2 linked regions of the Homo sapiens genome follow. The protein of the gene in region 1 interacts with the protein of each later gene in a pairwise test. Each region holds a gene or a part of one and is shown in the gene's direction. Other genes may lie near its edges.

Evidence for each region.
Region 2: the proteins of ATOH8 (region 1) and CYP3A5 interact in a two-hybrid assay, tested with the Homo sapiens proteins (one large-scale study listed by BioGRID and IntAct).

The regions. Positions count from the first base shown.
Region 1 is NC_000002.12:85,788,269-85,792,041, forward strand, and holds the end of ATOH8 (transcription factor ATOH8), read left to right. Parts: 3' UTR 1-3,115; downstream 3,116-3,773. UniProt on the Homo sapiens protein: Transcription factor that binds a palindromic (canonical) core consensus DNA sequence 5'-CANNTG- 3' known as an E-box element, possibly as a heterodimer with other bHLH proteins.
Region 2 is NC_000007.14:99,652,377-99,656,202, reverse strand, and holds part of CYP3A5 (cytochrome P450 3A5), read left to right. Parts: intron 1-3,423; coding exon 3,424-3,650; intron 3,651-3,826. UniProt on the Homo sapiens protein: A cytochrome P450 monooxygenase involved in the metabolism of steroid hormones and vitamins.

The DNA.
Region 1 (3,773 bases):
GAGGCCTGGTCAGGAACACATGAGGAGCCCTCTCTGTCCGCACTGCACTCAATCTGTACCATGGATTTATGAGATAGGGGCCCCTATTATTAACCCCGTTTCACAGATGGGGTAACTGAGGCCTCAAGTAGACAGGGTCAGTCGGTGACAGAGCCAGTCATCGAATCAGGATGGGCTCACTTCAAATCCTGTGCTCTCAAACCTTTTCCAGCCCCATCACCAGTCCCAGCCCAAAGTCTCTTGTGTGGCCTTGTCACATTGCTTCACCTCAGCGGGCCTAAGGTAGGGACAATAAAGGCCCATTGGGACTGGGGGAAGGGGTGATAAGATAAAAAATAGGAGAGCACTGTCAAGGCAGAAGGGACAGGGCTGGCCAAGGAAAGGGGGATAGGAGGGGACCGGAGGCTGCAGCCATACAGGACACAGTTTGTCCCTTGGTTTCACCAGTGTCACTTTCTCGTCTCTGCTGCTCAGACTCCTGGGCTGGGCTGGGGCTGGCTGCAGGGAGCCCCCCTTGCAGTAGCGTTTCTCAGGCTGGCCCTTTACCAAGGACCACAGTGTCCATGCTGTCTTGGATCCCTAGGCTGGCACAGAAACAGGGGACCCAGGTGGCCCTGAGCACTCCTCAGAGCAAAGGTGCTCTGGAAGCAGACTGGACAGAGTGGGCATGGAATGGGGCCAGGAGGGTCTGTTAGGAAGGTTCAGCCACCCTGTGAAGCTGGCACAGATAACAGCACTGCTCTGTTGTCCCTCGGAGCCTCTGAGTAACCCTGATGGCACTTCCTAAGGCAGCAGGACATGTGGACTGACCAGCATCAAACTGTTGACATAGAAGACCATTTCTATTACCAAAGGGAGTGTACCCCATTCTGCTGCCAAGGGAGCAAACCCATGGCCTTACCACCCAGAAAGAGCCCATCCTCCACCTCCCATCCCCCTCCTGCATACATACTTCATTACATGTTTCCCTTTCATTCTGAAGCATCATTGATGACCAGCTGCCTGTCAGACACTAAGATAGGCAGTGGGAATGAAGAGATGGATCTTGTGTCATGCATGGCATCACGGAGCTCTGGGTTCTGTACGGAGGGTGGGACAGACAGGTAGACAAGCAAATAATTATGATTATAGCAGATGACTAAGGTGTTGTCGGGAGCTTCAGGAAAGGAAGAACTAACTCTTGGGGAGGTTCTCAGGAAGGATTTCCCTGGAAAGTAGCCATGGGACTTGCGTCTTAAATGGTGAGTAAAAGCTTTCTGAGCAGGGGAGTAGGAAAAGGGCTTTCTATGCAGAGGAGCACTCAGCGCTGGCAGGAAATTGGAATCACCCAAGGAGATTATTAAATATTAAATATTGATATGAAGTATTGATGCCCAATTTCATCTCCAGAAATTCTGATGTATTGGTCTAGGGTGTTGCCTGGTCATTGGGATTTTTACAAGCTCCTCAAGTGATCTTAATGTGCAGGCAAGGTTGAAGCCGCTGGTCTAAGTGGGGTCTGGTCTACGATAAGAAAGTGACTTTGAGCCATCGATTTGGGAGACAGGCTCTGGGTGGATGTGTGTGTGTGCACACATATGTATGTATGTGGATGACTAAAAGTGCATGCTCTCCTCTCCTTTCCCAGCTTCCTCTCCAGCACAGCAACTTGTGTTCGTATGCACACACATGCATACTCTCTCTCATGGGCACATGCATACCCACACACACACTCGTGTACATTTCCAGAAAATGGAATTACATTTCAGATAGATTCAGATTCCAACGGCAGTCTTCTAAACACTTTTATGCAAGCAGCCATTCAAGGAGACCCTCAGCAAAATATAAATGACGAGGAGCTGCCCTCATGGGGCCCTGTGAAAGCACTTTGCAGTCCAGCCTTGGGTTTGTGGTCACAGAGTCACCTGTGGATGTTTGTAGCACACTCTCCTTGTCTTGTCTGCTCTGGGTCACCAGGCACAGGCCATAAAGGGATGAGGGGGCCCTCTCCAGGGACCCGCAAGATCTTCCTGGGTATGTCTGCATGAAGCCCCACGTGTGCACACCCATCTTCATGTGTGTGTGTGCCAGCCTCCTGCTCTCTGCAGAACAAAACCAGAAGGAATGGCTCTGGGAGTTGGAGATCTCAGCTCACAGGCCAAGCTTTGCAAGACTCTCCAAAGACTGCCCACAGACTGTGCTGCTTCCTGGGTCTGGCCTGAGACTATCCCAGAAGAGAGGGTTAAATTCTGGAGGTGAGGTTTTGAGCAAGTGTTCATCCCCCCACACTATGCTCCTTCCTGTCTCCATGGCCACATCCTTCAAGGCTCTGTGCTGTTCTCTTTTTTTCTGGATTTCTCCACCTCCACCAAGTTCCCCTTTCTCACAGCTAGTGGAGGCATGAGTAGGCAGGTCCCAGGGGCTGGGAACTGGGTAGCATTGCCATGTGCAGGGACTGTGTTGGGAGCTGCAGGTACAGAGCTCCTCTGTGCTCAAGAGCTTGCCGGTGAGCCTGGACGGAGGCATAGGTGCAGCTAATTAGGATAAGACAGGGGCCGCGCTGTGGTCAGCCGTGGGAAGCCGGCGAGGGGACTGGAGTTGGGGCTACACTTGCCTCCCTCCTATGCTGCTTCCTGAGCCACGAAGTGGTCATTGCCAGCATCCCAGGCAACAAACAGCAAGACTCAGACATCTCCAAGGAAACCCTTTGAGTGGATCTGTACCGTTGTTCTCGTCTTGCTCTCTTGCTGCCCTGCCACCTTCACAGCTGCTTTCTGTTTCCTGGTTCCAGGAAGACAGCGGGGCACAGGGTCCCTGCTTTGTGAGGAGCAGCTGGCTTCTCCCTTTGCCCCCAGGTTTTGCCCTCCCACATGTCTCCCTTCTGGTGACCCGGACCCCAGACAAACTATGCCTGCCTCCCTGAAGCCAGGCATCCTGAGGAACTTGATAGACAAACAATGACAGTGTTTTCCAGAACTGTGGGTACGTGTCTAATCTCAGATGGTACTATGAATTCCTGGAGATCAAAGTTTGGATCTAATTCAACCCCTGATCCTCGAAACGGCTTTCTTGCAAAGTGTATATATTGGTTTCTTTGCTGAATGAATGAATAAAACATGGAAAATGTGGTAATTCACTCATTTTTGTTTTCTTCCTTCCACAAATAACTCCCAAGCATCTAATTTGTTCAAGACCTGGGGAAAACAGGACCCAGGCCAGGTGATCTTTTATATGGCTTCGGAGAGGCTTGAAGGGAGAGGGGCTTAGAGCCGAGAGAAGCCTGGCCTTGGACCTTTTTGCTCTTTATGTGGCCGAGTCTTTGAGAACTGAGCGAAGAGGACAGCATCACAGCACACGTGCTGGCACACAGGCACTGAATGAACAGTTACTGAATGTGTAGATGAGTGAATGAATGCCGCCAAGCCTCCTTACAGCCCTGCCTCGGACATCACTAATCAACAGTGGCTCTTTTTCTCCAGGGGCTCCTACACTGCCTGAATTCCGCTCCAGACAATGCTCCAAGCAGTTACTACTAATGGATCGGAGAGATGAGCTCCCTCTGCCGCCCTGGTCCCGTGGCCTCCCTGGAGTGGGCCAGCCTCCTCGGGCCACCCCAGCATGGCGTGTTTGAGGTGATGTCAGGAGCTTCAACTTCACTGTTGCTCACGGGCCATGTGGCTGCCTCCTGACTGGCCTCTCTGTCAATGGTCTGTGACTTCCAACCCTGCCTCTGCCATGGCTGATAGGGGTTTATTTCCAAACTTCCTCCCTGGGCCCATTGCCTCCAGACTACA
Region 2 (3,826 bases), on another chromosome or scaffold:
ATCATACTGAATGGACAAAAACTGGAATCATTCCCTTTGAAAACTGGCACAAGACAGGGATGCCCTCTCTCACCACTCCTATTCAACATAGTGTTGGAAGTTCTGGCCAGGGCAATCAGGCAAGAGAAAGAAATAAAGGGTATTCAATTAGGAAAAGAGGAAGTCAAATTGTCCCTGTTTGCAGATGACATGATTGTATATCTAGAAAACCCCATCGTCTCAGCCCAAAATCTCCTTAAGCTGATAAACAACTTCAGCAAAGTATCAGGATACAAAATCAATGTGCAAAAATCACAAATATTCTTATACACCAATAACAGACAAACAGAGAGCCAAATCATGAGTGAACTCCCATTCACAATTGCTTCAAAGACAATAAAATACCTAGGAATTCAACTTACAAGGGATGTGAAGGACCTCTTCAAGGAGAATTACAAACCACTGCTCAATGAAATAAAAGAAGATACAAACAAATGGAACAACATTCCATGCTCATGGGTAGGAAGAATCAATATCATGAAAATGGCCATACTGCCCAAGGTAATTTATAGATTCAGTGCCATCGCCATCAAGCTACCAATGACTTTCTTCACAGAACTGGAAAAAACTACTTTAAAGTTCATATGGAACCAAAAAAGAGCCCGCATTGCCAAGTCAATCCTAAGCCAAAAGAACAAAGCCGGAGGCATCATGCTACCTGACTTCAAACTATACTACAAGGCTACAGTAACCAAAACAGCATGGTACTGGTACCAAAACAGAGATATTGATCAATGGAGCAGAACAGAGCCCTGAGAAAGAATGCCACATATCTACAACCATCTGATCTTTGACAAACCTGACAAAAACAAGCAGTGGGGAAAGGATTCCCTATTTAATAAATGGTGCTGGGAAAACTGGCTAGCCATATATAGAAAGCTGAAACTGGATCCCTTCCTTACACCTTATACAAAAATTAATTCAAGATGGATTAAAGACTTACATGTTAGACCTAAAACCATAAAAACCCTAGAAGAAAACCTAGGCAATATCATTCAATACAGAGGCATGGGCAAGGACTTCATGTCTAAAACACCAAAAGCAATGGCAACAAAAGCCAAAATTGACAAATGGGATCTAATGAAACTAAAGAGCTTCTGCACAGCAAAAGAAACTACCATCAGAGTGAACAGGCAACCGACAGAATGGGAGAAAATTTTTGCAACCTACTCATCTGACAAAGGGCTAATATCCAGAATCTACAATGATCTCAAACAAATTTACAAGAAAAAAACACAACCCCATCAACAAGTGGGGGAAGGATATGAACAGACACTTCTCAAAAGACATTTATGCAGCCAATAGACACATGAAAAAATGTTCATCATCACTGGCCATCAAAGAAATGCAAATCAAAACCACAATGAGATACCATCTCACGCCAGTTAGAATGGCGATCATTAAAAAGTCAGGAAACAACAGGTGCTGGAGAGGATGTGGAGAAAACAGGAACACTTTTACACTGTTGGTGGGACTGTAAACTAGTTCAACCATTGTGGAAGTCAGTGTGGTGATTCCTCAGGGATCTAGAACTAGAAATACCATTTGACCCAGCCATCCCATTACTGGGTATATACCCAAAGGATTATAAATCATCCTGCTATAAACACACATGCACACTTATGTTTATTGCAGCACTATTCACAATAGCAAAGACTTGGAACCAACCCAAATGTCCAATAATGATAGACTGGATTAAGAAAATGTGGCACATATACACCATGGAATGCTATGCAGCCATAAAAAATGATGAGTTCATGTCCTTTGTAGAGACATGGATGAAGCTGGAAACCATCATTCTCAGCAAACTATGGCAAGGACAAAAAACCAAACACTGTATGTTCTCACTCGTAGGTGGGAATTGAACAATGAGAACACATGGACACAGGAAGGGGAATATCACACACTGGGGCCTGTTTTGGGGTGGGAGGAGTGGGGAGGGATAGCATTAGGAGATATACCGAATGTTAAATGACGAGTTAATGGGTGCAGCACACCAACATGGCATAGGTATACATATGTAACAAACCTGCACGTTGTGTACATGTACCCTAAAACTTAAAGTATAAAAAAAAAAATTCAAAAACCTCAGTGGCATCTAATGAGAAGCATTTATTGCTCACAAGACTGGATAGTGAGTTCTGCTGATACTGACTGGACTCACTCTGGTCTGGCTATGGTCTGAGGTAGCCTGGCCCTGGGGGCGCGATGGAGGCTGACTCAGCTCTCCCCACACCTGTCTCATGTTCCAGTCAGGTAGCCACTGGCCAAGAAGCCAAGCTAGGAACCAGGGTATCTGACTCCTGAGCTAAACTCTAACCCTCTACAATACTGCCTCCCAAATATAACACCAAGTGCTAGGTACATATCATCCACAGTTTTCAGACTTCTGCCCAAACTGGGATTCTTTTTAGTGTGAAGAGACCTGGCCTGTGGGGCTGACCCTGGTGTGGCTGTGAGGCAGACACAAAGGGACATTTACATCCAGTCCTGAAGATTACAGTCCAGCCCTGAAGCAACAACTAGGAAACTATTCCAAAAGGAGGGGATGGGGCTGAGTGTGGGGTTCTATTCTCTTCATAACTTTAACTAGAACTCAAATTGTGTACCTTGGTAGCATCCAATCATAAATTTATTTTGTCGTATTTGTGATAGAAAGGAACAAGTTTATCCACAAATTTATTTATTTATTTATTTATTTATTTATTTATTTGAGACAGGGTCTGACTCTACGACCCAAGCTGGAGGGCAGTGGTGCAATCTCAGCTCACTGCAAACTCTGCCTCCCAGGCTCAAGCCATCCTCCCGCCTCTGTCTCCTGAGTAGCTGGAACTACAGGCACACGCCACCACACCCAGCTAGTTTTTGTATTTTTTGTAGAGATGGGTTTTCACCATGTTTCCCAAGCTGGTCTCAAACTCCTCAAAAGAGTTACCAAGCAGGACTCTGCAACCAATAATCCTTGTGTGAAGAGGATATTTGCTCTTTTCCCTGTTTTTCTTTCTTGGTACAGATGTGTGACCTCTTTTTGAAAGGTGATAGTGACTTTGGTGTATTTTATTTGGTGGTAATGGTCATAGCCCCATTAATCACATTTCTTCCCATGAGAAAGAAAAACCACTACATGGTCATGCTAAGGATTTCAGTCCCTGGGGTGAGGATGGTCTTGAATATCTCCTACATTCATAACTCCTCCACACATCTCAGTAGGTCACTGAGCACATCAATGGACATGCCAGTTATTAAAATACTTCACGAATACTATGATCATTTACCAGTATGAGTTATTCTCTGGAGCTTCTAATACTTCAATAGTACTGCATGGACTCAGTTGAGAGTTAATTCAAAATCTCAGATTATCCAATTCTGTTTCTTTCCTTCCAGGCACCACCTACCTATGATGCCGTGGTACAGATGGAGTACCTTGACATGGTGGTGAATGAAACACTCAGATTATTCCCAGTTGCTATTAGACTTGAGAGGACTTGCAAGAAAGATGTTGAAATCAATGGGGTATTCATTCCCAAAGGGTCAATGGTGGTGATTCCAACTTATGCTCTTCACCATGACCCAAAGTACTGGACAGAGCCTGAGGAGTTCCGCCCTGAAAGGTACAAGTCTCCAGGGAAATGGAGCTCACCCTGACCCAGGCTGGTTCAAGCATATTCTGCCTCTCTTAATCTACATGACAATCGTGTGGTTGTACAATCATTTGCTTGTAAGTCTTTTTATCACAAAAAAGTGATAATTATCAAACTTTACAAACCACAGACTAGAAAAAACGAAA